Homo sapiens: one gene and its partners. The protein of the gene in region 1 interacts with the protein of each later gene in a pairwise test. Each region holds a gene or a part of one and is shown in the gene's direction. Other genes may lie near its edges.

What was found.
Region 2: the proteins of NUTM2F (region 1) and RBM47 interact in a two-hybrid assay, tested with the Homo sapiens proteins (one large-scale study listed by BioGRID).
Region 3: the proteins of NUTM2F (region 1) and OSTF1 interact in a two-hybrid assay, tested with the Homo sapiens proteins (one large-scale study listed by BioGRID).
Region 4: the proteins of NUTM2F (region 1) and ANKS1A interact in a two-hybrid assay, tested with the Homo sapiens proteins (one large-scale study listed by BioGRID).
Region 5: the proteins of NUTM2F (region 1) and SH3RF1 interact in a two-hybrid assay, tested with the Homo sapiens proteins (one large-scale study listed by BioGRID).

What each region holds. Positions count from the first base shown.
Region 1 is NC_000009.12:94,322,145-94,328,015, reverse strand, and holds part of NUTM2F (NUT family member 2F), read left to right. Parts: intron 1-2,081; coding exon 2,082-2,778; intron 2,779-4,013; exon of another isoform or gene 4,014-4,274; intron 4,275-5,686; coding exon 5,687-5,815; intron 5,816-5,871.
Region 2 is NC_000004.12:40,618,458-40,624,328, reverse strand, and holds part of RBM47 (RNA-binding protein 47), read left to right. Parts: intron 1-5,871. UniProt on the Homo sapiens protein: Single-stranded RNA-binding protein that functions in a variety of RNA processes, including alternative splicing, RNA stabilization, and RNA editing. Functions as an enzyme-substrate adapter for the cytidine deaminase APOBEC1.
Region 3 is NC_000009.12:75,142,767-75,148,637, forward strand, and holds the end of OSTF1 (osteoclast-stimulating factor 1), read left to right. Parts: intron 1-3,916; coding exon 3,917-3,975; 3' UTR 3,976-4,499; downstream 4,500-5,871.
Region 4 is NC_000006.12:35,085,884-35,091,906, forward strand, and holds the end of ANKS1A (ankyrin repeat and SAM domain-containing protein 1A), read left to right. Parts: coding exon 1-53; intron 54-1,068; coding exon 1,069-1,166; coding exon of another isoform or gene 1,167-1,188; exon of another isoform or gene 1,189-2,716; intron 2,717-2,722; coding exon 2,723-2,726; 3' UTR 2,727-5,523; downstream 5,524-6,023. UniProt on the Homo sapiens protein: Regulator of different signaling pathways. Regulates EPHA8 receptor tyrosine kinase signaling to control cell migration and neurite retraction.
Region 5 is NC_000004.12:169,095,976-169,101,445, reverse strand, and holds part of SH3RF1 (E3 ubiquitin-protein ligase SH3RF1), read left to right. Parts: intron 1-4,758; coding exon 4,759-4,927; 3' UTR 4,928-5,470. UniProt on the Homo sapiens protein: Has E3 ubiquitin-protein ligase activity. In the absence of an external substrate, it can catalyze self-ubiquitination. Stimulates ubiquitination of potassium channel KCNJ1, enhancing it's dynamin-dependent and clathrin-independent endocytosis.

The sequences.
Region 1 (5,871 bases):
CGTCAGTTCAGGTAGCTGTTGGCTTTGATTTAACAGGGGTGGGGGCAGAATGGGGAAGTTCAGGCAACACAGGGCCTGGGTTTCCTGAGTTGTTCTGAATTGTTTGCCCTTTGGTGGAAGCTCAGGTCTTCAGACCCACTTCCTCTCGTCAGCTAGCTCATGGCCCGTCCTCTGTACTTTGTGTTACTGTGGAGGTGAAGAATTTGCTCCTGTTCCATTTATACTACCTCATGAACGGGCGACAGGTGTGGATTCTTGCTGGTTCTCAGTGGAAGGCTCTGAAAAGGCTGGTTTCCTTTTCAGTAGAGGAAGGAGAGTAGCGCACAAATAGGAAGACAGTCCTATTATTATTATTATTCAAACTAGGATGTGTGTCCTGACTGATGAGGTGCATGTGCTGTATCCCTTATTCCCCTTGGCTAGAGACTGCATGAGGTCCTAGTGAACAGGGATGAGTTCCAGACAACTCTGCCTCACCTGGCCTGTGGCCCAAGAACCCCTGGTTCTTCGTTGGTCCCTATGTTCAGTTACTGGGAGCTCAAAGGAGAAGGACCAGAGATGGGCTCCCTGTCCCACTATTTAGTGTAACATGACTAGCAGCTGTGAAAATCCCTGGCCGGGCGCGGTGGCTCACGCCTGTAATCCCAGCACTTTGGGAGACCAAGGCATGTGGATCACGAGGTCAGGAGTTCAAGACCAGCCTGACCAATATGGTGAAACCCCGTCTCTACTAAAAATACAAAAATTGGCTGGGCATGGTGGCGGGCGCCTGTAATCCCAGCTACTCAGGAGGCTGAGGCAGGAGAAGTGCTTGAACCTGGGAGGCAGAGGTTGCAGTGAGCTGAGATCGCACCACTGCACTCCAGCCTGGGTGACAGAGCGAGACTCCGTCTCAAAAAAAAAAAAAAAGAAAAAAAAGAAAATCCCTAGACACCTCCCCTGATAGCCCTGCTGCTCACCATTTGCTGGCTGTGTTCTAGTCATGTGCAGCTGTTGCTGGCTACACAATGACAATATCTCAGGGGACTCCACCACTGCTTCTCAGATCTGCTCCCTGGGAACTGAGCTTCCTGAGTGGCAGCTGGGACCACTGAGCACTGAGGAATGGGTGGCCTGAATCTGACCCCTATTTAACACTTGTGTGGGTGGTGCCAGGACAATCACTTGCATGCTGGGCGTGATGTGTTATGGGTTATCTTCAGGGTTCCTAGGGCACTGGCTTGGGTGAGTTTCCATCCAGTGGTTTTCTTTTTTTTTTTTTTTTTTTTTTTTGAGACGGAGTCTCGCTCTGTCACCCGGGCTGGAATGAAGTGGCACGATCTCGGCTCACTGCAGCCTCTGCCTCCTCGGTTCAAGCAATTCTCCTGTCTCAGCCTCCTGAGTAGCTGGGATTACAGGCACGCACCATCAGCTAATTTTTGTATTTTAGTAGAGACGGGGTTTCACCACGTTGGCCAGACTGGTCTTCAACTCCTGACCTCAGGTGATCCACCCGCCTGGGCCTCCCAAAGCGCTGGGATGACAGGCATGAACCAGCACGCCCGGCCTATCCAGTGGTTTTCTTTTGTTGTGTTGAGCTAGGAAAGAAAGGGGTTTACAAGAGCTTCAGGGAAAGGAAGACTGAAGAGGAGATGGGGCCATAATATTCGGAAACTTCTGGTTTCCTGTCGGCCTTCTGAATGCCGAGCACTGCCCTGGGGTAGGCCCCTCACCTGCTGCTGAGCACACTGAGAGCCACCAAGCCACCGAGAGACTCATCCCTGACCCATGGCTTGGGAGATGCCTGTGAGGCTGGTGCAGTCTGCCAGGGACACCCGAGGGAGACCCTCAGAGACAGCAAAGGCTTGGCTGTTTCTTCTTGGCAGACAAGGGTCAGGGAGTCTTGGTGACTGGCGCCAGGCTCTCTAGTGGAGCGACTCTGCCGTGGAGGAACAGAGCATCTGATGCACACTCAGGGACACTTGCAAGCTGCAGAGTTTCCCTGTCACATGCCCTCAGCTGTTGGGACTCCCCTGATTCCCCAGTGACTAGTGTGGACCTGGAGACGCCAGCTCATTCACCTCTTTCCTTTGTCTCCACAGCATACCCAGTGCTGGGACCCGGCGTGACCGTGAACCCTGGCACCTCCCTGTCTGTGTTCACGGCTCTGCCCTTTGCCACACCCGCTCCCGGCCCAGCACACAGGCCGCCCCTCGTGACTGCAGTGGTTCCTCCAGCCGGCCCTCTGGTGCTCTCTGCCTTCCCCAGCACCCCTCTAGTGGCAGGACAGGATGGCCGCGGCCCGAGTGGGGCCGGGGCTTCCAACGTCTTTGTCCAGATGAGGACAGAAGTGGGGCCTGTGAAGCCCCCTCAGGCACAGACCTTGATCCTAACTCAGGCCCCCCTCGTCTGGCAGGCTCCAGGCACCCTCTGTGGAGGTGTCATGTGTCCACCTCCCCTACTCCTGGCAGCTGCTCCTGGGGTGCCCGTTACCTCTGCCCAGGTGGTTGGGGGCACCCAGGCCTGTGAGGGAGGCTGGTCCCATGGCCTTCCTCTTCCACCACCACCACCGGCTGCCCAGGTGGCCCCCATCGTGTCCCCAGGGAACGCTAGGCCATGGCCACAAGGGGCTCATGGAGAGGGCAGCCTGGCTCCCTCCCAGGCCAAGGCCCGGCCGGACGACTCCTGTAAACCCAAGAGTGTCTATGAGAACTTCCGACTCTGGCAGCACTACAAGCCCCTGGCCCGGAGGCACCTTCCCCAGAGTCCTGACACTGAAGCGCTTTCCTGCTTCCTCATGTGAGTGTCCTCGGGGCGCCGGAGCTTGTCCTGCAGCTCACTCATAAAGAGGCTGCTGGATGGACAGGAGGTCACACTGTTCAGGGGAGCTTGCAGGGCGGTTGTGAGGGTGATGGGTTGTGCTATGGGAAGGTACGTTTTCAGCAACATTAATCTGGCTGCGGCTCAGGACAGACTGTCAGGGGCCTCACGTCAACTGCCTGTCACTGTCCCGTGAGTCCAGCCAATCCTTAATTTTTTTTTTTTTTTTGAGATGGACTTTCACTCTTGTTGCCCAGGCTGGAGTGCAATGGCGCGATCTCAGCTCATCACAACCTCCGCCTCCCGGGTTCAAGTGATTCTGCTGCCTCAGCTTCCTGAGTAGTTGGGATTACAGGCATGTGCCACCATGCCTGGCCAATTTTGTATTCGTAGAGATGGGGTTTCTCCATGTTGGTCAGGCTGGTCTTGAACTCCCGACCTCAGGTGATCTGCCCGCCTCAGCCTCTCAAAGTGCTGAGATTACAGGCATGAGCCATCATGCCCCGCCCCAATACTTACTTTCTTTTCTTTTCTTTTCTTTTTTTTTTTTTTTTGAGATGGAGTCTCACTCTGTCGCCCAGGCTGGAGTGCAGTGGCGCGATCTTGGCTCACTGCAAGCTCTACCTCCCAGGTTCACGTCATTCTCCTGCCTCAGGCTCCCGAGTAGCTGGGACTACAGGTGCCCACCACCATGCCCGGCTAATTTTTTTGTATTTTTAGTAGAGACGGGGTTTCACCATGTTAGCCAGGATGCTCTCAATCTCCTGCCCTGGTGATTCGCCCGCCTCGGCCTCCCAAAGTGCTGCGATTGCAGGCATGAGCCACCGTGCCTGGCTTTCACTTTCAATAATTTTCACAACAATGTTTACAGAAGACCCAGGTCAGAGAGCGTTCTTGGTGTGACATGAGCCACGGTTAGGGTTTAGGTCTTTTTTGTTTGTTTGTTTGAGATGGAGTCTCGCACTGTCACCCAGGCTGGAGTGCAATGGTGAGATCTTGGCTCACCGCAACCTCTGCCTCCTAGGTTCAAGCGATTCTCCTGCCTCAGCCTCCCAAGTACCTGGGCTTACAGGCGCCCGCCACCATGCCCAGCTAATTTTTTGTATTTTTTAGTAGAGACGGGGTTTCACTATGTTGAGCAGGCTGGTCTTGAACTCCTGACTTTGTGATCCACCCGCCTCAGCCTCCCAAAGTGCTAGGATTGCAGGCGTGAGCCACCGCACCCACCCTGGGTTTAGGTCTTTGAGTGTACACCCCAGTGCCTTCCCTCGAACTGAGTGTCAATGGCCAGGGGCACATCACATGGGGCTGGGGGGAGGAGCTGCAGGGCCCAGCAGGAACCTGGCACACACCCACACTGTTCTGCCGCGGTCCAGTTAGCACAGCGGTGGTGGAGCCTGCACAGGGGGATGGTCTTGGGACCCGCACTAGGGTCGATGCTGGGCAGGTATTAGCATCTTCACCGTCAATCCCCCCTAGAAAAAAGGACAATGGTGTTTCATTCAGAGGATGGCAAAGAGATGACCTGAGCTCACATATGACATACGTAGCACAGTGCCTGGCACATACTATGACACATTACATGACAGCAGTTATGATTACTGTCCCCATTACTACCATTATCAGGACTAGGCCATCTAGGAGAGTGCTCCCCAAAGCCACGGGCTCCAGTGATAGCTCTGAGTGCACCACGAGCCCAGCAGCCCAGAGCCGTGGACTGTGGTGACTGTGAGGCAGCAACATCAGCATCTGGGAGAGTTTGTGGTTTCATTCCCAGTCCCTGCCTCTCTCCACCCCGCGGCACCTCTGTGACCCTGTGTTTCCCGCTGATGAGCAAACAGGAGCTTGAGCATATCCACCGTGCAACACACTGGCCATTCCCCTAGGGGAGTCCCCTGCCTGGGGTGTAGGTGAAGGCGGCCCCGTCTTCCTCCCCAACAGTCTCGCTGCCCCCACACCCTGGAACTGGTTGCATCCCCCCTTGGAGCGGAGTCCCGGTGCACTGGGGACCCTGATTCTTGGAGTGTAGCCGCCCCGGGCTCACAGGCCTTTGCCTTGGCTCCTGTGGGAATGTGGGAAGCTGTGCCTGGCTGCTTGCAGTGGCTTGGACACCGCTCTGCTTTGGTTCTGGACGTGTGCTCCTGCTCCTCAAGCTCCAGGACCCTGAGGCTGTGTCCCCAGGGGCTGCCTTGCTCCAGAGTCCCCAGGAAGCTGGTTAAATGCTCAGTCCTGTGGCCCAGGAACCTGCACTTTAACCCTCGCTCCCAGGTCATTCTGTGTGCATGGTGTCTCAGTCAGCTCAGGCTCTGCCGTAACGAATCCCATAGACTGGGTGCTTTATCAAGACACATTCATGTCTCCTAGTTCCAGAGGCCAGAAGTCCCAGATCAAGGTGACAGCGGATTGGGTGTCTGGTCAGGGCCCTCTTCCTGGCTGGAGAGAGCTGCCTCTGGCTGTGTGCTCTTGTGGCTGAGAGCAAGAGCCCTGGTGTCTCCTCCTGCCCTTATCAGAGCTCGGATTCCATGACTGGGACCCACGCTCATGACCTGCTCTAACCCTGATTGCCTCCAAATACTGACACACTGACACTGAGGGCTTCAGCACAGGAATGTTGGGGACACACATGTTCCACCCATAGCACTGAGTTCGCTTGTCAACATCATAACACCGAGGACTTGAGAGGCAGTCGGAGAGGCCACTCAGTGGCTTCTATTGATGTTGGATCTTGGGGGTGTGTCCTGGAGGCTGAGGAGCCCACATGGGGGAGAACAGGACAGGGACAGATGGCAGGACAGGTGTGGGGAGGACAGGAGCCAGGTGTTGGGACCAGGTGGGCCCGGGATGGAGGGTGGGCTTACAGACTGGGACTGACTGCACTGGTTTACAGCCCAGTTCTCCGATCCCTGGCCCGGCGGAAGCCCACCATGACGCTGGAGGAGGGACTGTGGCAGGCCATGCGGGAATGGCAGCACACGAGCAACTTTGACCGGATGATCTTCTACGAGATGGCGGAAAAGTGAGTCTGGGGTCCTGGGGGCAGGGCCCGTGTGGCGGGGTGAGAGTGAATGACAG
Region 2 (5,871 bases), on another chromosome or scaffold:
TTCACACTCCATAGCAGAGTGGCTAGGAGCATGGGCTGCCTTGGTTCCAATCTTAGTTCTGCCACTTACATGTGACTTTAGGCAGGCTAACTAAAAAAGAAAACTCTGTGACTCAGTTTCCCCAACTGTAAAATGCCTACCTCACAGGGTTATTATAAGGATTAAATAAATTAATCTGGGCCAGGCTTGGTCACTCACACCGTAATCCCAGCACTTTTGGAGACCAAGGCATGCAGATCACTTGAGCCCAGGAGTTTGAGAACAATCTAGGCAACATGGCAAAACCCCATCTCTACAAAAAATACAAAAATTAGCCAGGCGTGGTGGTACACGCCTGTAATCCCAGCTACCAGGGAGGCTGAGGTGGGAGGATCCCTTGAGATCGGGAGGCGGAGGTAGCAGTGAGCCGAGATTGCGTCACTGCACTCCAGCCTTGACAGGGCAAGACTCCATCTAAAAAACAAACAAACAAACAAACAAACAAACAAGTTTATACCTCTTTGTCTGCTATTTAATATCCTTTAAAAGGCTGAGAGTTGCCAATAAGCAATGATGAGGAGGAAAAAAGTGCATTTTTTCGTAATTAGAAAAAACTTATTAGGTCATTACTAGAAGGAAAAAAGTATGTTTTCTCAAAATTAGGGAGAGTGAAGAGCTGAGCGTGGTGGTTCATGCCTGTGGTCCCAGCTACTTGGGAGGCTGAGGCAGGAGCGTCGCTGGATGACAGGCGCTCAAGGCTTTAGTACGTTATGATTGCGCCTGTGACTAGCCACTGCACTCCAGCCTGGGTAACATAGTGAGATCTCACCTCTAAAAAATACGGAGGGTCAACCAAGAAATCCAAGAGTGAAAGGGCAGTATCAGGTGAATATCAATGAATCACAGCAGTGTGGCTTTTCTGGTGGGCTGACAGTGTACTCTTAGTTACTAAGAAAAGAGATGAGGAAGGACAGGTGGCTGAAGAAGTATTAGAAGAATTGCCTCTAGTGAAATCCTATTTGCAGAGCAAAGAGAAATCCAATAACAAGTTAGCCCTTCCCATTTGGTGCAAACAGTAGTTTGGCCCAGGGACCTCCTTTGCTTTTTGCTCCACATTGTGGGCTCCAGCATCTACCTCAAGGTATATGTCAGTTTGCCAATGAGTAAACAGAAACTGCCAGCTCATATGATACGGACAAGCCCAGCCTGAAACCTAGGAGTCACTTCTCCGGTGGGAACTGCAGGAGGCACACAGACCCTGAAATTAAATGGTAACACCCATGTTCTCATACACCCTGGTCATGTATGAAAGGTCTTGCCCTTTCTCCATTGGCTAGAGCTAGTCACGGAAGGGTGGATACGTCTGCAGAATCTGCTTATCTGCTCCCCTGCTTCCACCTTTGTCCTCACCGCTCTCCCCGCACACTCCTTTCTTAACCCAGTATCCAGAGTGACTCTTTTATTTTTTGAGATGGAGTCTCACTCTGTCACCCAGGCTGGAGTGCAGTGGCACGATCTCAGCTCACTGCAACCTCTGCCTTCCAGGCTCCAGTGATTCTCCTGCCTCAGCCTCCTGAGTAGCTAGGATTACAGACATGCACCACCATGCCTGGCTAATTTTTGTGTTTTTAGTAGAGATGGAGTTTCACCATGTTGGCCAGGCTGGTCTCGAACTCCTGGCCTCAAGCGAGCTGCCTACCTTGGCCTCCTAAAGTGCTGGGATTGCAGGTGTGAGCTACCTCACCTGGCCAGAGTGACTTTTTTAAAACAGAAGTCAGCTCGTGTCAGTCCCCTGCCGAAAACTTTCTAGAGCTTCTCTATCTCACTCAAAAGCCAGTGAATGACTTTATTTCTAGTCCCATCACCTCTTTAACCTCGCCTGCTACCACACACATCCTTACTTCCTCTGCTTTAACCACACTCCTTTTCTTGATGGGGTGTGCCCAGCACATTCATACCACAGGGCCTTTGCACTGGCTGCCCCGATGCCTGAACCATCATCCCCAGACATCTCCATGCTTCACTCCTTCACCTCCTTCAAGTCTTTGCTCTGCCTCCTCCAGGTTAAAACAGCAATTCCTCCTTCCTGCCCGCATCCTCTGTCTCACTACCCTGCTTTCTCTCTGGTATTTATCGCTTTGTAGCATACTATGTAATTGTGTGACCTATTATCTGTCTCTCCCTGACTAGAATGTCTACTTCATTCATTGGTGTATCCCAAGCACATTAGAGGAGCGTCTGCCACAGAGTAGGTGCTCCATAAATACTTGTTGAATAAATGAATAAGACACACAGGCTTTTACACATTTCAAGCGTGACTGAATGCGTTTTACTCGAAATACAACCACGAACATACCTTTCTGAATGAGCATGGGTTTTCTCCCAGACCTCTCCCAGGAGGCTGCCATGTTTTCTGTGGTTTATTTTCTCTGCCACCACAAGTCCTTGATGGAGGCTGATGACTAAGTAACGTGCAAGGCAGGGCCAAATGTGGGGATGTCGCAATCGTTTCAGCACTTCCCCATTTCAGAGCTTCCCTGTTTCCAAATCAAAGCCTCCTCTTTGGCAATCTTTTTGTGATTTACATCTAAATGTGTAGCCCTCTGTTTGAACCATTTTGTGAATCGCATGCCCTACAGATAATTACACTTGACTGACTTATGTTACTATATTGTTTATCACCTTTTCTACTGTCATTTAATTATAATTAATGATTTTCTGAAAGTAACTGTCAAGACAAATTTTCTTAACTATCTCTTTTCACCTTTGAGGTTTCCACAAGTGCCAATTGCTGCTACAGGATTCCATTTAGATTGTTCTCAGCTGCAGAGCTCAATTAGGTATTTTTGTCTTGACCTGGCATGAAACGGAAGTGCTAGAGTCATTGTTTGAGTCTTTAATTTTTCCCCAGAACCTTTGTACAAATACTTGATCTTGCCTTTACAAAGTGGCAAAACAATTCTCTGATCTGTCATGTTTGTTTGCTAGCCCTGGCTTCGTTCTCTCCTTTGGACAATTACCTAGGTTTGGCAAAATTGCTTTTCGTGGCCTTTGGAGGCACAGTTCCCTCTCTGCGTTCATTTGCCTTGTTTAGATCCATAATTCACTGAAAAAGGCTTCCTCAGTTGCTGTTAGAATCCTGTGGCTACTAGGCTTGGGGACCCTAAAACCATCTTGAAGGTAGTACAGACTCCAGGAAGGTTCTTTGCAGTAAAAAAAAGGCAATAGTACATAAAGTCTGCTGAGGGTAGATGAAGAGCCTGGATTTAGTTATTTCTGACTATTGTCAGTCATGGTTTGTGGCTGATTTAGAATTATTTGGATTTTGGGTTTTTTTTTTTTGTTTGTTTCCTTCTAAATTGATTTGGAAGACATCATCACAATTTGTTGAGGAGTTCAAAAAATACACAGACAAATTATGCCTAATAAACAAAGAGCTAATGTTCATAGTTCTTTCTGCAAATCATCTTATTTCTTATCATATGCACTGAATGGGACATTAGAAATGAATAGGGGGGCCGGGTGCAGTGGCTCACGCCTGTAATCCCAGCACTTTGGGAGACTGAGGTGGGTGGATTGCTTGAGCCCAGGAGTTAAAAAGCAGCCTGGGCAACATGGCGAAAACCCTTCTCTATTAAAAAAAATTTTTTAAAGAAAAGAAAAAATGAATAGCATATAAATGTTAAATTAGACTTGTCTTTGGTAATATACTATATAGAGGGAGCTGGTGGTAATTATTTACTAAAATATAGAACCAGTAAATATGAATTAAATGGGTTTATAAACTAGACACATTGAAAGGACTTATTTTTCTTGCCCAGATACAGACTTTTTGTTTTTTTTTGAGATGGAGTCTTGCTGTTATCGCCCAGGCTGGAGTGCCATGGCATGATCTCGGCTCACTGCAACCTCCACCTCCCAGGCTCAAGCCATTCTCCTGCCTCAGCCTCCTGGCTAGCTGGGATTACAGGCGCCTGCCACCATGCCTGGCTAATTTTTGTATTTTTAGTAGAAACGGGTTTCACCATGTTGGCCAGGCTGGTCTCGAACTCCTGACCTCGTGATCCGCCCGCCTTGACCTCCCAAAGTGCTGGGATTACAGGTGTGAGCCACTGTGCCCGGCCCAGAGTTTTTTTTTTTTTTTTTTTTTTTTTCATACTGAGTCTCACTCTATCGCCCAGGCTGGAGTGCAATGGTGTGATCTTGGCTCACTGCAAACTCCGCCTCCCTGGTTTAAGCGATTCTCCTGCCTCAGCCTCCCGAGTAGCTGGATTACAGGCATGAGCTATGAGGCCTGGCAAATTTTTGTATTTTTGGTAGAGACAGGGTTTCACCGTGTTGGCCAGGCTGGACTCAAACTCCTGATCTCAAGTGATCCGCGGCCTCGGCCTCCCGAAGTGTTGGGATTACAGGCGTGAGACACCGTGTTTGGCCTAGATACAGACTTAACTGCTGTTTGAGCAGCTACTGTGTGCTGGACACTGGATACGAAGTACCCAGTGGTGAATAAAGATTCTCCGCCCTCTGGGACTTTCTTTGTTGGGTGGAGATGAGATTTAGTGTTCTGAAGGAACCAGGAACCCACAGGTACTACACAATAGTAGGTGGGAATCCCATAGGTGAGGTCATCAGAGAAGGCTCCTCCAGGGAGGTGGGGCTGAAGGTGTTTGATGGGCAGGGAGATGTCCATCTTCGCTAGATGGAGTAGCGTTCATGAAGGTCCTAAGGCTGGGAACGCTTGGCATGTTGAGGGACTTAAAGAAGGCCGACCTTGCAACAGTGCAAAGTGCCCAGCAAGGAGGAGATGGGCACAAGGTAGGGTTATGGGGATTACTGAGACTCAGAGCATGTGGGTCACTAAAGACCATGGAAAAGAGTTTGCATTTTGTTACTCCAGGCCTAAGAGAAAGCCATTAAAGACGACTTCTTAAAAGACAACCCTGACCCAGGCTGGAGTGCAGTGGTGCAATCATGGCTCACTGCAGTCTTAAAGTCTTGGGCTCAAGTGATCCTCCTGCCTCAGCCTCCCAAGAAGCTGGGACTACAGGCACACAATCATACTCAGCTAATTCTTTGATTTTTTTGTAGAGACAGGGTCTCACTCTTTTGCCCAGGCCGGTCTTGAATTTCTGGGCTCAAATAATCCATCCATCTTGGCCTCCCAAAATGTTGACATTACAGGTGTGAGCCACTGCGCCTGTCCAGGGGTTGATTTTTGGGGGTGTTGGTGTTGGTGGAGAGAGCCAGTGGCCTGCATGGGATGTCTTCTGTGTATCTACCTGCCTCTGTTATGGTCTGAGTCTGAGGCCGGCAGTGGCCAGCAGAAATAGCAAGATGTGGTGATGGCCTGGAGGAAGGACTGAGGATGGGGGGTTCTGATCTGTGTTGCTGGCTGTGATGGCAGAGACTGGGGGAAAACAAGTTTGAGGCAGGTAGAGGAGATCAGGAGTTCAATTTTGGGTGTGTTTACTGAGATTCCTGTTCAAACATCCCAAGGAGATGCTGGAAGTTTCCCTTTTTTTTTTTTTTTTTTTTTTTTTTGAGATGGAGTCTCGCTCTGTTGCCTAGGCTGGAGTGCAGTGGCTTGATCATGGCTGACTGCAACCTCTACCTCCCAGGTTCAAGCAACTTTCCTGCCTCAGCCTCCCGAGTAGCTGGGATTACAGGCGCGCGCCACCATGCCTGGCTTATTTTTGTATTTTTAGTAGAGACGGGGTTTCACCATGTTGGTCAGGCTGGTCTCGACCTCCTGACCTCGTGATCTGCCCACCTCGGCCTTCCAAAGTGCTGGAATTACAGGTGTGAGCCACTACCCCCAGCTAGAAGTTTCCCCCTTTTATATCCAGTGCCTCTAGCAAAAGCAGGAGACACCTCTAGTGCCTAGCATTCATT
Region 3 (5,871 bases), about 19 Mb from region 1:
TTATATTTCAATTTTCATGTTACTTTTAAAATGTTTTTTCTTGCTTCATTTCCCCAATTATACAGTTAATTTGTATTGTGATCCTCATTGGAATAGGTTTGGACTATTTGGCCATAGAGTTAATTGTCAGCATGAACTCTAAGTTGGAAAAGGTATATTCTGATATTGTTGTCCACTTTTTTTTTTTTTTTGAGACAGAGTCTCACTCTGTTGCCCAGGCTGGAGTGAAGTGACACAATCTCAGTTCACTGCAACCTCCGCCTCCCGGGCTCAAGTGATTCTCCTGCCTCAGCCTCCTGAGTAGCTGGGATTACAGGCATGAGCCACGATGCCCGGCTAATTTTTGTATTTTTATCAGAGATGGGGTTTCACCTTTTTTGTCCAGGCTGGTCTCGAACTCCTGACCTCAAGCGATCTGCCTGCCTTGGCCTCCCAAGGTAGTTGTTGTCTACTTTTAGAAGCACAATGTGGATTTTTTAATAAGTACAAAAATTCACATTTTGCAGTTACTATGGAAGATAACTAGGATATAGGGCTGGGGGTTATACTCGAGTTGAGCCCTTTAACATTTTTTTCCAACTTTTAAAAATTTGTGTATAATTTACATTAAGTAAGTACATAAATCTTAAGCATACAGCTTGATTAATTTTTTTTACACCTGTTCACCACAACCCAGATGAAGCTAGAGAACAGTTCCCACACGCCACATGCCTCCCTCAGTGTCTTCTGCTTCTCTCACCATAGATTAGTTCTGCCCGTTCGTGAACTTTATGTAAATGGAATCAAACAGTATGTACTTTTTGTGACTGACCTCTTTCATTTACATTATGTCTGTGAGAGTCATCCATATGCCTGTGTTTATTTCTCCATCATTTATTTATTGTTTGTATGTTTGTTGGTTGGTTTTAAGTGCTGGTTCTTGATTTGAGATATGTAAAGCCAGGGTGATGGGACTGAGGTAAAATGAACGTGAGCTAGGGAAGGATGGCAGTGCTGCAGGAAGATACATTCCTATGCGTGCTATGCCCAGAGGTGGGCTGTGAAGAGATACAGGCTCATCACACAACACCTGACCATGTGGGAAAACTGCCTCAGAACAGTTCATGAAAGGAAAGAAGGAGAAGGAATTTATTTGCTGACTTGTGCCTGTCTTTTGATGACCACTCAGTCAGAGTCTGCACTGTGGCAAATCATCCTCTCTTTTTAATAGAAGTAAGAATAAAATAAAGAGCAGAAGTAACCATCCAAGGACACAGAATATGGGCAAAACTTAGGATAGTGGAGTAGAAGGGGACAGAGTTTTCCTATTTGTCTCTCAGGCTTTAGCTTAGAAAGCTACATTTTACCAAGTTGACATGAAGTCCTGAAGGTCCTGGGTGTGTGTTGGGGGAGAACAAAATATATTCCTCCCACTTCTTGTGAACTCCTCTTGAGGAGAGTGGAGAAGAATAGAGTCAACCTGGAGACTTCCAGTAGCTTGAAGGCTGGTGTGAAGTCAGTGAAACATGGCCAGGTGTGGCGGCTCACACCTGTAATCCCAGCACTTTGGGAGGCAGGGAGGATTGCTTGCATCTGGGAGTTCAAGACTAGCCTGGACAACATAGTGAGATGACGTCTTTACAAAAAAAATTAAAAACTAGCTGAGTGTGGTGCTGCATGCCTGTAGTCTTAGCTACTTGGGAGGCTGAGGTGGGAGGATCACTTGAGTCCAGAAAGTCAAGGCTGCAGTGAGCCATGATTGTACCACTGCACTGCAGCCTGGGTGACAGAATGAGATCCAGAAAAGAGACTTGGCCTCTGTTCTGCTTTATCTTTCCTTCTCTCTCTTGCAAGATAAATCGGCTTCCACCTCCCTTGTACTGATCATCCCTTCTTCTTTTCTTTTTCTCAATAATCATTTTCCAAAACATGTAAACATGAAAACTTTTTTTTTTAAAAGAGCATTAGCATACCTAAAAAATAATTCCTTAATATTCCTTAATATCATCAAATATCTTGTCCTTGTCCAAACTTCCATTTTCTCATACATCTTTGTTTTTACTTATTTATTTACTTATGGTTTATTTAAGTCAGGATTCACATAAGGTCAGTTTGTGATTGGTAGATATGTCTCTTTATTTATTTTTTAAGCAATAGTTCCTTTCCCTCTCTTCTTCCCCCTTTTTAACCTTGCAATTTATTTATTAAAGAAACTGGGTCAACTCACTTGAATTTCCCATTGTGGACATTGCTAACTGCATTCCCATGGTGTTATTTGTCATGTTCCTCTGTCCTTTATGTTTTTGTCAATTAGTGTTAGATTTAGAGGTTTGATCCAATTTAGGTTCATTCTATCAATCAATCAATCATGAATCAATCATGTATCTGCCTGCCTATCTATCTATCTATCTATCTACCTATCTATCTATCTAATCTATCTATCGGTTTGATCTAATTTAGGTTCTATCCATCTACTTACCTACCTACCTACTTACCTACCTACCTAGCTATGTATCAAATCTAGCTAGCTAGCCAGAGGTTTGATCCAATTTAGGTTCAATCTATCCATCTCTTCACCTACCTACCTATCTACCTACCTACCTAATCATGTATCTTTCTTGGTAGTAGAAGGAATAATAAATCATATAGAATATTGTGTTCTTTTATCAGGGGCACATGATACCTGGTTGTCACTCTTCCTGTGATGTGACATCCATTGATGATCGTTGCCTAGATCTGTTACTTCACTAAACGGCACAAAATGATGATATTCTAATTAAATCACTTCTTTTTGAGTTATTAGCTGGAACATTCTATTAGGAAAAGTTTTCCCTCATCAATTGTTTTGTTACGCAGAGGAACAGTTAATGTAGCAAGGGCAGGATAAATGCTTGATTTTTGACCTTTATTTAAGAGGTTTTAAAATAATAAGCTGGTCTCTGTCATCCTCCAAAGGGTGACAGATGAGTTCTTTTTGGTGTGCCTTGAAATATTTAATGTGCTTTAATCCATTCCAATTAGTAGCTTTATCAATAGCCCATCTTTGGCTAGTGGAGGCCTCTTTAAGTTGAATCTCAGACCCTTTCACGTGATGCTGTCTTTGTTAGGATGCTTGCTTTATGACATGACTAGGGTTCTAGGTCCATCCCTTACACTTCCTGCCCCATACTTGGAACCGGTCATATGTATAATAAGCTTCAGAGATGTGATACTTAGAGATCATGAAGATCTGGGTGCTGTGACATATATTTATTGAACTTCAACAATGTGCTTGTGTTTGCATTCTGTTTTTCCCACTAAAATTATACTTGGGCTAATCTGTTGCTATAGGAATTTGACTAGACAGTTGAAGGGGTGACTGTGAAAGATCAGATGTCTTCCTTTTGAGTCCTGTTCAAGTTTGCTTGAACATTTGATGGGGTCCAGCTCTATTTTAAAACTTTTCCCCCCCATTTCAGCCTTTTGCTTTATTGTCGGTGTTTTCTACATTGAAATGGAAGCTTCTTTGTTTTCATTCTTTCTTTTCCTTTTTCCCCTTCGGTAGTTAACGTCCTACCTAGTGACTTTGCCTTTAGGCAAGACCTCAGGCTGTCACTGGGAGAGGAGGTTGGAAGCTCAGTTGTCAGAGTGGAGTGCTGCTGGTGGTGTATCATGTTGGTCATGGTGCCTGTGGCTAGGCCTTTCTGTTGGAAATGGATGCATGGCACCTAGGACCAAAACTTCTGCATGACTGTGGAACGCATCATCAGCCTCTGTGGCAACAGAAACTTAATGGTTAGGCTGAAAAGCAAAAGCAGAGAAAGATCCTCAGGGAAAGTACAATCCCTGGGTCAGATGGAAGATTCTATTCTAATTTAAGAGCTTTGAAAATGAAAAAATAAAATCTGAGCAGTTTATAATTTCCCTATTTTGCTTTTTTCCCTCCTCTTTCTTTCAGATGCAGTTCGAACATTAAGCAATGCCGAGGACTATCTCGATGATGAAGACTCAGATTAATTCCTTTCTGGAGCTTTGAGATCTAAAACTTCTGTTGCTTTTGCCATTCCAAAACTTTGTCTTTGCCAGAAAAGTGTTGGTAACTATAAAGAAAATTATATATGAACACGGCAGTGTTGCACTGTGTTTGAGTAGAACGTGTAAATGAATTGTTCCCACCTTTGGTTTGCCAGTAAGTGACTGGATTCTTGGCACATTTATGTTCACCAAAGTAGAACAAGAAGATATTATTTCTATTTATCAAGCAAAAGGAATTTTAAGATTTTTTTTTTTCTTTAAAAACAAATTAGGATTTTTTTTTTTTTTTTTTTTTTAGTTAAAATGCTTTACCTCAATGGTTGAGATATTTTGAATGGATTTTTCAAGGGGGGGAAATGCTTATTATAATAATAAACCAAAATACTTAACAGAAAATTGTCAGCTATTCTGACAAAAATAAACATTTTGAGAGACTTTATTTCTTTTGTCCGTTTCTGTGGTATCACTCATTGTCGTTAAGTAAGTAAAGCTTTTTATATTTAGGTAAGAACTGATTTTATTTTTTAAATTATATTTTATATTTATTAGCACAGAAGAATAATGAGAGCCACATTTTAGTTCAACTTCTTGTGTTAGCTTTGATCAAAGTCAGGACAATAATCATTGAGAAGGTGCATGTCTAATAAAATAGGTAAATTTAATAATTGTGAGACTTCCAGTTTTTATCTCCAAGGTTGTATTTAGAGTGGAGAAACCCAACAACTCATTACAGTTTCGCTAAGATTTGAAAGGTTAAAAAAATTTATTTCCTTATGATAGATGCCATACTTTTCCATATGGAGTAGTCAGGAACCATGAAATTTTTTGCATTCAGTTTTTTTAATAACATTTGTTTTCTCACAGTATGGATCTAGTTCATAATGATTCAGATTCTTTTGCTGAAACACAATTAGCATTGCAGGGAGCCTTCTGTACTACTGACATGACACTTCATTTGGCGTTCTAATTTTGTATCACTACAGTGATGATGTAAAAATGACATGGCCATTGGAATTTGCCTAGAATCCCGGCCCTAGGTCCAAAAGTATATTTTGCAAGATGATTTCAATGCTAATTTCAAAAAACACGTTGATGAAGAGAAGGAAATGTATGAAGAAGGAAGTGGGTTAGCTCAGGAAATGAATAACTGCCTCTATAAGAGTTTATTCTGTGACTGTTTGGTTTTTCACTCTGTGGGAGCCTTGAGAAACGATACCCAGAGAAGCCCATTTGAGGTCTTTCAAACACCCTCAACTAAATTTTAGTAGAAGAGAATCTGTACCACTAGTGACAACAAAGTATGAACACAAATTCTGGCACCAACAAAAGAGGGCATTTTATTCTTAAAATAAATACGTTATTAAATTTGATTTAACCAGTTGTATTTCTTCTTAAACATAAACTTGAAGATATGAAATTCTTCCTGAAATTGTATCTATTCCTATAGATCCTTTAAGATTTTTCTTTAAAATGGGGCTTGTTTCTTAACAAAAAGCTTTTAGAGAACCCTGTAACTTTTTGTTCTTCTATACTTTGGGCTGGGGTAATTAGGATGGATTTCAACTAAAGACTCTTAATTTTTAAAACATGGGCAGAAATAATACAGCTTGTGTGGCTATAGACAATTTTTATCAAAATACCATGTACTTGCTTTAGATATATTATTTGTATATCTGAGGGAAAGAATAGTGGAGGTCTCACTATCATTGTTTTTAACATTATCAAACTTAAGAGAATTTTAGAAAGTTGGACAACTATAGTTTTTTTTTGAAGATGAGGAGAGTGCTTAGCTATGTGCATGAATTTTTGGTAAAACAGGACAACTCATTTAGTTGTGGCTGAAACTCCACTGGAAATTTTTTTGGTTTGTTTCTTGTT
Region 4 (6,023 bases), on another chromosome or scaffold:
CAAAATCTTCCAAACCGGTGCCTAAGCCTCGGGTCGGCGTGAGGAAATCCGCAGTACGTGGGCCCCACTGGCCAAGATCCCCCTCTCCCTGGCCCCAGGGATTCAAGGGCTCAGGGTGGTCAGCGTGAGGAGGGTCTTCTGGCACTTCCAGAAAGCTGGCCCTCCAGGGAAATGACCCTCTTAATTGTCCCCCAACCCTGCCAGGTCTCGCCCCTGGAAAGGCAGCAGCTCCTCTGGCCTGGGCGGGCCTCTCATGCTCCTGTTTCCCTCCCTCGCTGGGCTCCCCCAAGGGCAAGGCCGTCAAGGGGCTGCAGAGAGCGGCCTGCAGGCAGCCCCCAGTAACTGCGCCATCCCTGTGTCTGTGTCTGCTTTGCTCTGCACCCCAGGTGCCGCTGCCCCCCGATAGTCGCTGTTGTTACTGTCACACCTGCACCACCCACCGTCCTTCCTACCTACCGCTGCCATCTGTTAGTCCTGGAGTCAAGGTCTTTACGCCTCCTGCTGTCTTGTGTGTCAGTCTCCCCGAAGTGACCGTGAGCGCTCTTAGCCTCTGGCGGCCTCTCCCTCTGCCTGTGTGACATTCTTTCCCCTCTTCCTGAGATGCCCTCTGCCTGTTCTGTGTGTGCTTCAGCCCTCTCTGTTTTTCTGTTGTGTGTCCTCTCTCCAGAGGTCTGGGGTGACTGCTGTGGTCTTGCCTTGGGGTGAGCTCTCTGGGCCTACCAGAGAGACCCGAGGCTGGACATTTGCAAGCCCCATATCCCCTTCCTGCCCAGTGTGAGTGGGTCTGGGGCTTAGAGCAGGAGGCCCGCCTAGGACAGGGGTCCTTTAACTGAGCAATCCCAAGAAATCCCGGAGAGAAGCTGTGCCTGGAGGTGGCCCTCCCCAAGATGCTCCAGGAGGGTGTCCCTCCTCCGCCTGCCCCCAGGGGCCTGCTCTTTGGCCGAGGAGAATAAGGGCTGCCCCTCCCAGCACAGGGGCCACAGCCTGGCCTGGGGGTGGGAGGGGCCTGCTGCCTCCAGCCCTGGCACAGAGCTCCCTCTGACTCTTGACTGCTTCCTTGTTTGGCAGCTGGAACCACCTGATATGGACCAAGATGCCCAATCCCATGCCAGTGTCTCCTGGGTTGTGGACCCCAAACCAGACTCTAAGCGGAGCCTCAGCACCAAGTATGAGACCACTATCTTCTAAAACAACCCACTCCCTGTCTCCACTAGTCTCACTGTGCCTTTGCCATCCGATCTTTCTGCTGTCCTCAACTCTCTCCTTCCAGCTGCTGATGCCAAGGCCCCACCTGCACTGGGACCTGCTCCTCTTGGGCGGGCGGCAGCGTAGACGCTGTACACTTGCAGCTCTCGCACCTACCACCACCGAACACTGTGAATTCTCCCCCTTGGGCTGAGGACAGCTTGAGGGGGTGAGTTGCCTTTGAGGTGGGCATCAAGAGGGCTCAGGGGTTCTGTTGCACCCTGGAAGCCTCCACGGGCAGGCACTGTGAACCCCGACGGGCAGGGCAGTCTCCAGCAGGATCCCAACGGCACTGATAGCTCCCCAGGGTTGGGCTGGGCTCTGTGTGGCTCCCTCCTCCTGTCTGCTGTACTGAGCCACAGCTGGGCACCGTTGCCAAGAGCTAGCTGACTGTTCTCACCTCTCCTGAACCAACCAACCACTGTGACCACCCAGTGCCAGAGTCCCCAGCACTCTGCTCACAGCCGGCCTGCAGCCCCACCCCACTGTCCTCCGCTACTCCGAGGTGCTGGCCTCACTCTCATGGCTAGGCCCTTGTGAGACCTTGAGCTCAGTGATGTGGCTGGACCAGGGACAGACTGCTTTCTGTGAGGGCCCAAGATATGCGCCAGGCCCTTGGGTCCGTGCTGACTGCCCCACTTGGGGCTCTGGGTATCTGAACACTCACAGGCTGGCTCACACAGCAGGTGTCTCAGTCCTGATGGGCCTTCCCCTCCAAGGAGGTGGGTGGCATGTGTGTGGACAGCCCCTCTATCTTCGCCATGGAGTCTCAAGGCCTGGCAGCCTTGGGCCTGGCTCTGGAGTCTAGCTCACTGAGGAGGAAGGCCTTCCGTAGAACCAACGAGGAGGCGGCCTGTGCCCTGCACACACGGCGCACCTTCTTCCCTCACAGAACAGAGCTGCTGGAGGACAGGGACCTGGACCAAGTGGCCTCCATTGTCCTCTGGGAGCTTTCTGACACTCTCCACGGTGGGGGATCACAGATAGACAGCGCCGTCCAGCATGCCCCTGACCACCTCCCTCAGCCTCCTGACTCCTCCGAAAGGAGAGGCCGTCCCATCGCAGCAGCTCAGAAGCTGGGATGGTGGAGCTGAGTCTTTGAAGAGGCACCCCATTCTCCAGTGTGGGCAAATCAGTTTGGATGGCAGGAGACAGGAAGGAAGCGGCGCCCATAGGCAGCCGTGCACACATAGCAGAGTCCACTAGGAAAGCCAGTCGGCCAGGGCAGTCAAAACCCAAGTCGATAAACTGGGTGGGTCCTGCGTACCCACCCATCCTTGTGCCTTCCTGAGCAGAGTCACTGAGCCAGAGGCAGTGGGGGCTGCAGGCTGTGGGTGCTCAAAGCAGGCATGGAGGGTGCCCCGGGGAGGCTGTGAGGGATCGTCTGTCCTGCTCTGTGTTTCCTTTCCATTTCCTCCACCGTCCGCAGGCCCCATTGGTTAACCCTTTCCTCCCCCCATTGTTTGCTTCTGCCAAGCTGAGCCACTGAGGAACCACACTGTGCTGCGGAAACATAGACGTGGGGGCATAGGCTCCCACTGCCACCACCGCCATCGCCTCACCTGCAGCTCTGAAGACCCAGGCCTCACCTCCGCCTGCAGGACCTCCTCTTGGCCACTTGGCCTGGGCCTGCCACCACCACGTCCTGCAGAACGAGCCCTGCCTTGGCTGTGGAGAAGCACTCCAGGCCGCTAGCAGATGGGACTGGCATTCCAGAGGGTCAAGAAGTGACTTGTTCAGAACACATTGTTTTTAACAGAAAAAAAATCTTTTTATAAAATGAACTTTTAACACTTGGCTCAAACCTCTAGGTCATACTGCCAATCTTTAGACAAATGGCCATGGGGCAGAGGACAGGGGAGCTGAGGTTGGTTCAGAGGCCAGCCTGCATAGCCTCTGTCCTCAGGACGGAACTTGGGTGCAGCTCAGTGGGTCGGAAGAGAAGGCGGTGGCCTGTGGGTGAGGGGAACGGAGCAGGCTCAGGCAGAATTGAGTACGGTGCGTCTGCTTTTCAAACCCAACCATATCAGCTGCTGCTCTTTATGAACTGCCCAACTTCCTGTCCCTTTCAGGGGCTAGACACAGGCTTCTCGTAAGAACACAGCCTTAGAGGCACCTGAGCAACTCAAAGGTTTCCGGTCCATTTCTGGGGTTCCCGATGGGAAGGTTCAGTGGCCAAATGAAGATAAGTGTGCAGTTTCTAGTGCTGGGAAGTCTTAGCCAGCACCAGAGCGCCAGGCCTCTCCCTGGCCTCTTACCTGTCAGTGATCGGAGCACTGCCCTGGGCTGGCCGGCGCCGTACTGCCTGCGTTGTGTCAGAGAATAGGAAAAGCAGCTTTGTTTGGGGCATTAATGCTTGGAGTGGGGTCAGCTAAGGTTGCTACTTGCCAATTTGTGATTTGTCTAATCAGCCTGTGTGATTGGGGCTCATTTTGATTCTCTGAATTATCGGTTTGACGGTTACACTTGGCTGCTGGGCCCATCCCTGGCCCCCGGTGTGGAAAAGGCTAAATAAGGTGACAGTGCATCGATGCTCCCCCGCGTGGCCTTTGGGGCAGGCTGGCATCCCGGTGCGCCTCTGCTTCTTAAGCTTTCCTGCTGCTCGCTTTGTTTTTAAAAGTAACTTGGGTTGCATTCTTCCCTCTGGACTAGAGTAGAAATGCAGGGGAAACTGCTGTGGATTTGAGAGGCAAAGTTGGCTCAGCTGTGTGCCCAGTTCCTCCTGTGGGCACTTTAGCAGGCTCCGAGCTTTCCTGGCATAGGTCAATCAGGTCCCAGGATGAATAATCCAGGCTTCAGCAACACTCCTCTTTCCCAGCCAGCAAAGGCTGTGAATTTGAATTCTTTGTTGGTATGTATGTGCAGGGAGTACTGTTAGGCACATTCTTAACCCATGTGGTTGGCCAGAAATCAGAAGTGGGGCTGTGTCTCTGACTGGCTAGAGGCCAGGCCTTGTGGGTTTCTATCTGCTAAGCACCCAGCAGGTTGGGGCCTGGGACTCAGCTCTCTCTGCGGTAGAGGCAGGCCCTCCTCCACTTCTTGGTACTAAACGAAGATCTCGACACCTTGCAGTTTTACTTCATTTCCTGCCCCTTTCAGGGCCTGTGAGGATGCCCATGAGCTACCGCTGTACAGTTCTCGGCCCCGGCTTTCTTCCAAGAGTTGACCAGGAACCCTAAAGCATCCAGAGTAGACTGCGCTGCCACTGCGCACATGCTGGTGCCCGTCTTCCTCCTAAGGGGCCAGGCCACATCCAAGTGGGCCTCTGTCGGGGGCGGGGCGGTAGGTCCGAAAGAAACCGCAGACACTACGATGCACTCCTCAAGCTGTCTTTTGTGCTTAGATCATCCATAGGTGTTTCTTCTGCTTGAAGCTGCTATATCATCTTTATTTATTCAGGGTATTTTCATATTGGAAGCCTTGGCTAGTCTGCTCTAGCTCTGGGTTCTGTTTAGAGATTGGTTTATTTCTGAATATTCAAGAAAGGAAAATGACTGGGCCTTTCTTTCTTTTCTTCTCCTCTGGGATGGGTAGTCTCCCTTTCCTAGAAAGGTTATTATAACTTTAAGGACAGGCTTCAAGTGGGAAGGCCCCTACTTTTGCACTTCTCCAAGTGCAGGTCACACCAGGGGCAGACCCTGTCGCTGCGTTTCTGAACTGTGAAGGAGCCCATTCGGGTGGGAGACTTCAGATGGGCTCAGTACCTGTCCCAGCCACAGGCTTCTTGTCCACCTCTTCTCCCCTGCCCACCAGCTGCTCAGCGCATAAGACCTTCCCGACAGGCTCTGCGTGTGCAGCTCTCTGCGTCCCTCCTGGGCCCTCCAGCGTCAGACACTAATGGGAGTTCCCGAGATGCTCGGGTTTGAGCAGGGAGCAGGCAGAGCTGCAGTCAGAGACATTAGAAAACCAGTCTGAATTGGGTCTGTCTTTGAGATGCCCAGGCCAGCAGAAAGCAGCTCAGAAGTATTGTTGCTCATGGTGTGGCAATGGACTGAACTGTAATGAAAATGTTATTTAATCTTTGTCTCTGTATTTTGATACTTGAATGACTTTCCCTTTTGTTTTACTGTATATAAAATTGTTAATCTGTCTGATTTTGTCTGAATTATAAACACTTTGAGGTACCAAACATAACCAATCTGTGCAACAACATAGACTGACCTCAGTACCCAAGAGAGTGTAAATATTTCTGGGCTTCCAGCTTTGGTTTTGTTATTTTCATAACTGTACACAACTTAGAACAGACTGAATTAATAAATGAGAAGCGACATGAACGCAGCCTTAATTCTTCTGAGTCTTTGAATTGGAAAGCGTCTTGATGGTTTTCTGGCAGAGGCGTGGGCACAGGCGAGACGCAGGCTCAGGATCAGTGATTCGCATCCTACACCGTTTGGCTGAGATGACGACAGCTTGGCTGTTTGGCTTTCTGTCTCGCACTCTCTAACAAACAGTTAGTTACAGCTGTGCTGTGAGGCGCAAGGGCCCCAGGATTCACCTTCCCCTCCTTAGGAACATCGTTCTGTGAACACCAAGCCAGGGCCACATTCTAGTTACTGCTGCAGTGGCATCTCTTCTGCCTCTTGGTCTGGGCTTGTCCACCCATAGACATGAACCGAACATCTGCCTCCCAGGCAGCCTGGGGGATCTAGAGCTGTGAAAGAAAGTGCTCTCCTTTCAGGAACTTGCTTGGATTGCAGAGGTTAAGTTTTAGACATAAACAACTAGCTACCAGCCCGAAGCCGTGCTATGGTAGGGATGCAGAGGGCAAAGTGTTCCCA
Region 5 (5,470 bases), on another chromosome or scaffold:
CTGCAACCACCCTTCTACTTTCTCTCCCCGTAAGTGACTTCTGGGCATCTCATAAGTGGAATCATGCAATAGTCTTCCTTCTGTGTGCATGCAGCTTATTTCACTTAGCATAACGTTTGCAAGGTTCATCCCTGTTGTAGCACGTGTCAGAATTTCATTCCTTTTTAAGGAGCTTTGTACATTTTAAAAAACAGTTTTTCTATACAACTAGGCTTTTTCTTTTTGCCACTTGACATGCTTATTAAGAATTAAAGGTACTATGCTAAGTCCTATGAGGCATATAAAGTGAATTTAGCATCATCTCATCCTTCAAGCAGCTTATGGTTTGGTAGAATAAACGAGACGGACACAGATGGTAATAATACATTGTAGACTGTGCTAAGTGCTGTAAGACATATACATGGAGGCCTCTGCGATTTAGTCAAGCATGAAATTGCCTCCAGCCATGGGGCTGGAGATTTCACAGGGGAGAACTGGAGCCAGGCTTTGAGAGAGTGATAGGGTATGGGTGGGAGAGATAGCGTCAAAGGAGACTCCCACTAGAAGGAACTGCATGAGCCAAGGTGTGGCGTGGGGGAAGTAAAGGCCCTGAATAGGGGACATGTTCAGGCTTAGGGGAGTGTTTGGGACTTTTGTGGTGATAGTAGTAGCTACAGCTGTGTAAAAAGAGATTAGGGCCTGATCACCAAGGGCTTCGCATACCAGGCTGAGGATTAACCTTGCTCACAGGCATTGTAAAGCTGTTAATGATTTTTTGGCAGTGGGTAGCTGCAAATAGAGTTGCCACTTAAGAATATTAGTATGTGAGCTCTGCATAGACTGGGTTGGGGACAGGAAGAGACTTGAAGGAGGCCAAGGTGGGTGGATCACCAGGTCAGGAGTTAGAGACCAGCCTGGCCAATATATTGAAACCCTGTCTCTATTGAAAATACAAAAATTAGTCGGGCATGATGGCACACACCTGTAATCCCAGCTACTCAGGAGGCTGAGGCAGGAAAATTGCTTGAACCCAGGAGGCGGAGTTTGTGGTGAGCTGAGATCGTGCCATTGCACTCTAGCCTGGGTGACAAGAGCGAAACTCAGTCTTAAAAAAAAAAGATATTTGACGAGGTGGAAGGTAATGAAGTCATCAACCAGGATAGTGACAGTGACAATGAAGAGGAGTGGATGGGATGCAGATTTTGAAGGTAGATCAGCAGGTCCCATGTAGGTCATGGGAGAGTATTCATTGACCCCTGAGGTTCAGAACTTCCCCAAACCCCTGTTCATATAAAGAAAAGCATAATCCGAGTGAGGCAGAGGGTGGAGCAGCAGATGTAAAGGGCCTCTGCAGCTGTGCCTTACATCTGTTTGTTGGTCTGTAAATGTTCTACTTGGCAAAGCCTTTCAATGCCTGAAATAGTTGGCCAGTTATGCCCAGTATTTGGCCTTACAAATCTGTATTAGAAAACTGCAAACCACCTCACAAGGCTCAAGATCAGGACCTGAGCTGGAAGATTTCTAAGTAGAGTCTATTACTCCTGCACCTGGTAGTCTTCATACGATCAAGACTGTGTCACAGTTTCCATTATGCACATAGTTTCTCATTCCACCCGCCCCCCCAGAGGTTTATAAAACTTAGCAATGAAAATTTGCTCCCACTGGGAACTTGGCAGGAAGAGTATGTTCTTAGCCCAGCAGCAGTTCTAGTTCAAAATTTTTTTTTGACAAAATTGGTTTAGTGCATTTTATAAAATGCATATATTAATCTAATTCACTTCAAGTTTTTCAATAACCATTTTTATTCCATTTCACCTTTAAGGCAGCTCACAGAGAACAAGTAGGGAATATATCTCATGAGAAGTCTACTCTGAATATGTTTTGAGTCACTTGTACATTTTTTCCCAGAATTATAAAGCTTTGCCTTAAATGTTTAACTTGCCCCACATGGCAACTACATCATTGCTTTTTCATGGATTTTTAGCATGTTGACATTAGACTTGAGAAATGTCATCTGGATCCTTCTTTCAGATAAATTCATGATGAAATTATTTGTCTTGCTTTTAAAGGTGTCAGAGAGCTGGGCATAGCGGCTTATGTCTATAATCCCAGCACTTTCTGGGGCTGAGGCTGGAAGATTGCTTGAGCCAAGGAGTTCAAGACCAGCCTGGGCAATATAGTGAGATGCCATCCCTACAAAAAGTAAAAAGATTAACCAGGTTTGGTGGCACACACCTGTAGTCCCAGCCGGAAGGCTGAGGTAGGAAGATCAGTTAAGCCTGGGAGGTCAAGGCTACAGTGAGCTGTGATTGCATCACTGCACACCAGCCTGGGCAACAAAGTAAGACCGTCTCAAAATAAAGATATCAAAGAAGGGATTCCAAAACCCTAACTGTGTTGATCTAAAGTTTGTCAAATCTCATTTTCAGGAAATGAGGCCTGAGTTGTGGCCTGAGTTCGTTTCCTAGTTAGAGATGTCCAGCCACTGACTGGCCCATTCTTCACCTCCTTGAAGTGCCAGGCCTCTGCCTACTCTTGTCTAAGCCATATGATCATAATGGGAGCTAATATTTTCAGGTTGAACTCTTTGTCAGACACCATACGAAGAGCATCATACTTGTTTAACTCATTACAGTCCTATTCTACAGATGAGGAAACAGACTGAGAGCTGAGATAACTGGCCCAAAGTTAAGCTGCTCTAACTGACCTTAAAGACTGTGTCAATCCTTAGGCCAGTGTTTCTCCCGCTGTGTCATGCTTCCTTCCTCATTCCATGCTTGATCAAACCCCAGCCTTGTGGTCTATGAATATTCATGTTTGAATTAGCTGAACCTTTCTCAGATATGATAAGCCAACTTCTGTGCTGTGCTTTTGCTTCAGATCTTGGGTAGTAATTTGGTCCCTGTGCCAAAGGAGCTCAGGTTGTTCAAGCAGCCACTTACCTTTTGCAGAGATGTGTTTTTTTAGTGTAATAGTCTGGGACTCTTGCTGTGGTCTTTCTTAAATGGATTTTGGTTTATATGGAATGGGAATTGGTGAAAGGGGCAGGCTGTAATAGGTTTCAGAAGTTTGGGGACAGTTGTATAGAATTTGTTCTGCCTATCATTTTGAAGCCATAATATTTTTCACTTTCAGTCAGGAGTGGGTCCCACGAGGCTATACACTCATTTTCTGACTTTGAGAACCAAATGAAAGTAGAAACCCAAAATCAACTTTATGACTGACTACTCATTACTTAGCATCAAACAGTGAAAGATGTATTTATTAGATATCTGTTGCCATGTAACCAGTTACGCCCAAAAGTCAGTGGCTTAAAACAATAATAAGCATGTATTATTTCACACTTTCTGTGGGTCACATAATTATGGAACAGCTCATCTGGTTGGTTCTGGCTTAGAGTATTTCTTGAGATTGTAGTCAAGACATCAGCCTGAGCTGATGCTCAACTGGGGCTGGAGGATCCCCTTCTAAGATGGCTTATTCACATCACTTTTTCTGGTTAGTTTAGGCTTTTGGAAAGAGGCCTCAGTGCCTTACCATGTGTTTCCTCTCCATAGAGATGTTGAGTGTCCTCACAACATGGCAGCCAGTTTTCCTGAGTGACCGATCCAAGAGAAAGTAAAGTGGAAGCCATAATGCCTTTTATGATCTAGCCTCAGAAATCACCCACTGTCATTTCTGCAACATTTTATTGGCCACACAGGTCATCCTGTGCATCATAGGAGGAGACTACACAAGAGTGTGAATACCAGGAAGCAAGGATCACTAGGGCCATCTTGGAGGTTGGCTACCATACACCACCATTCTTTTCCCCCCTTTTGTTGAGAAGAGGAGTAATGCAAATAATGCTGGAAAAATAGAGAAAGATAAAAGGATATAGAGTGTAAAACAAGTCACCTCCCTCTCGTTTCCTACAAGCTGTAATTCTGCACAGGAAGGCTAAGGAGCATGGAGGCAGGGGCACAGATAATATTAAACCAACTAAGCTTCTGCCATTTTTAAGCGATAATGACACCTTTCCCACTAACTCCAAATTCTGAGCCAAGGAGAAACAGACCCAAATGTCAGAATAATAGAGATGAGAATGTCAACCTCGTTACTGGTAATGTTGGATTGAACTTGTGGCCATAGCCCTCCCCTCCATGTCTGGACCTTGGGACTACCTTCCCAAGGGATAATCTGGGTATGTGGGGCAGATTACCTTCCTCAGAATTGCTGCCTCGCCCATGTCAAACACCAGTGTAAGGGACGTAGGGACACAGAGACAGACTTCCAGACTCACCTTCCTGACCTCTGTGTGCTTACAACATAGAGGTGGAGCAGAGCCTCCTTAGCCTGTGGGCAGGCGGTTCAGAGAGGACTGAACCCCCCCTGCTCAGCTACTTCTCCCAGTCTCACCAATCAAATAAATTCACTCCTGTTTCCTTGGAGAAGAGGGAGGGATAGAAATGATACCCCTCTCGGGAAATGAAATGAAACTCTCCTTTATGGCCAAGATACAAACACTGGTAGGGAACAAGGATGGCTGTCCTTGTTAAGGTCACTCAGATGAACCAGTCTGGGCCATCAGTAGTGGGTTGACACACATATCCAAATCCAGTCTTTGTTAGTACTAAGTCTCTACTAAACAGAAAATAGCAGTATTTTGAGTTGTTTTACAATCATAAATGAATTAATGTTATTTCCTATTTATGTTGAAGGTTCGTGCAGACTAACAGTACACCATTTTTTAAAATCACTGCTTTGAATCGCCTTAACCAAAATCTCTTTCTTTTCTAGGCACAGGGTGGTGGTTTCCTATCCTCCTCAGAGTGAGGCAGAACTTGAACTTAAAGAAGGAGATATTGTGTTTGTTCATAAAAAACGAGAGGATGGCTGGTTCAAAGGCACATTACAACGTAATGGGAAAACTGGCCTTTTCCCAGGAAGCTTTGTGGAAAACATATGAGGAGACTGACACTGAAGAAGCTTAAAATCACTTCACACAACAAAGTAGCACAAAGCAGTTTAACAGAAAGAGCACATTTGTGGACTTCCAGATGGTCAGGAGATGAGCAAAGGATTGGTATGTGACTCTGATGCCCCAGCACAGTTACCCCAGCGAGCAGAATGAAGAAGATGTTTGTGTGGGTTTTGTTAGTCTGGATTCGGATGTATAAGGTGTGCCTTGTACTGTCTGATTTACTACACAGAGAAACTTTTTTTTTTTTTTAAGATATATGACTAAAATGGACAATTGTTTACAAGGCTTAACTAATTTATTTGCTTTTTTAAACTTGAACTTTTCGTATAATAGATACGTTCTTTGGATTATGATTTTAAGAAATTATTAATTTATGAAATGATAGGTAAGGAGAAGCTGGATTATCTCCTGTTGAGAGCAAGAGATTCGTTTTGACATAGAGTGAATGCATTTTCCCCTCTCCTCCTCCCTGCTACCATTATATTTTGGGGTTATGTTTTGCTTCTTTAAGATAGAAATCCCAGTTCT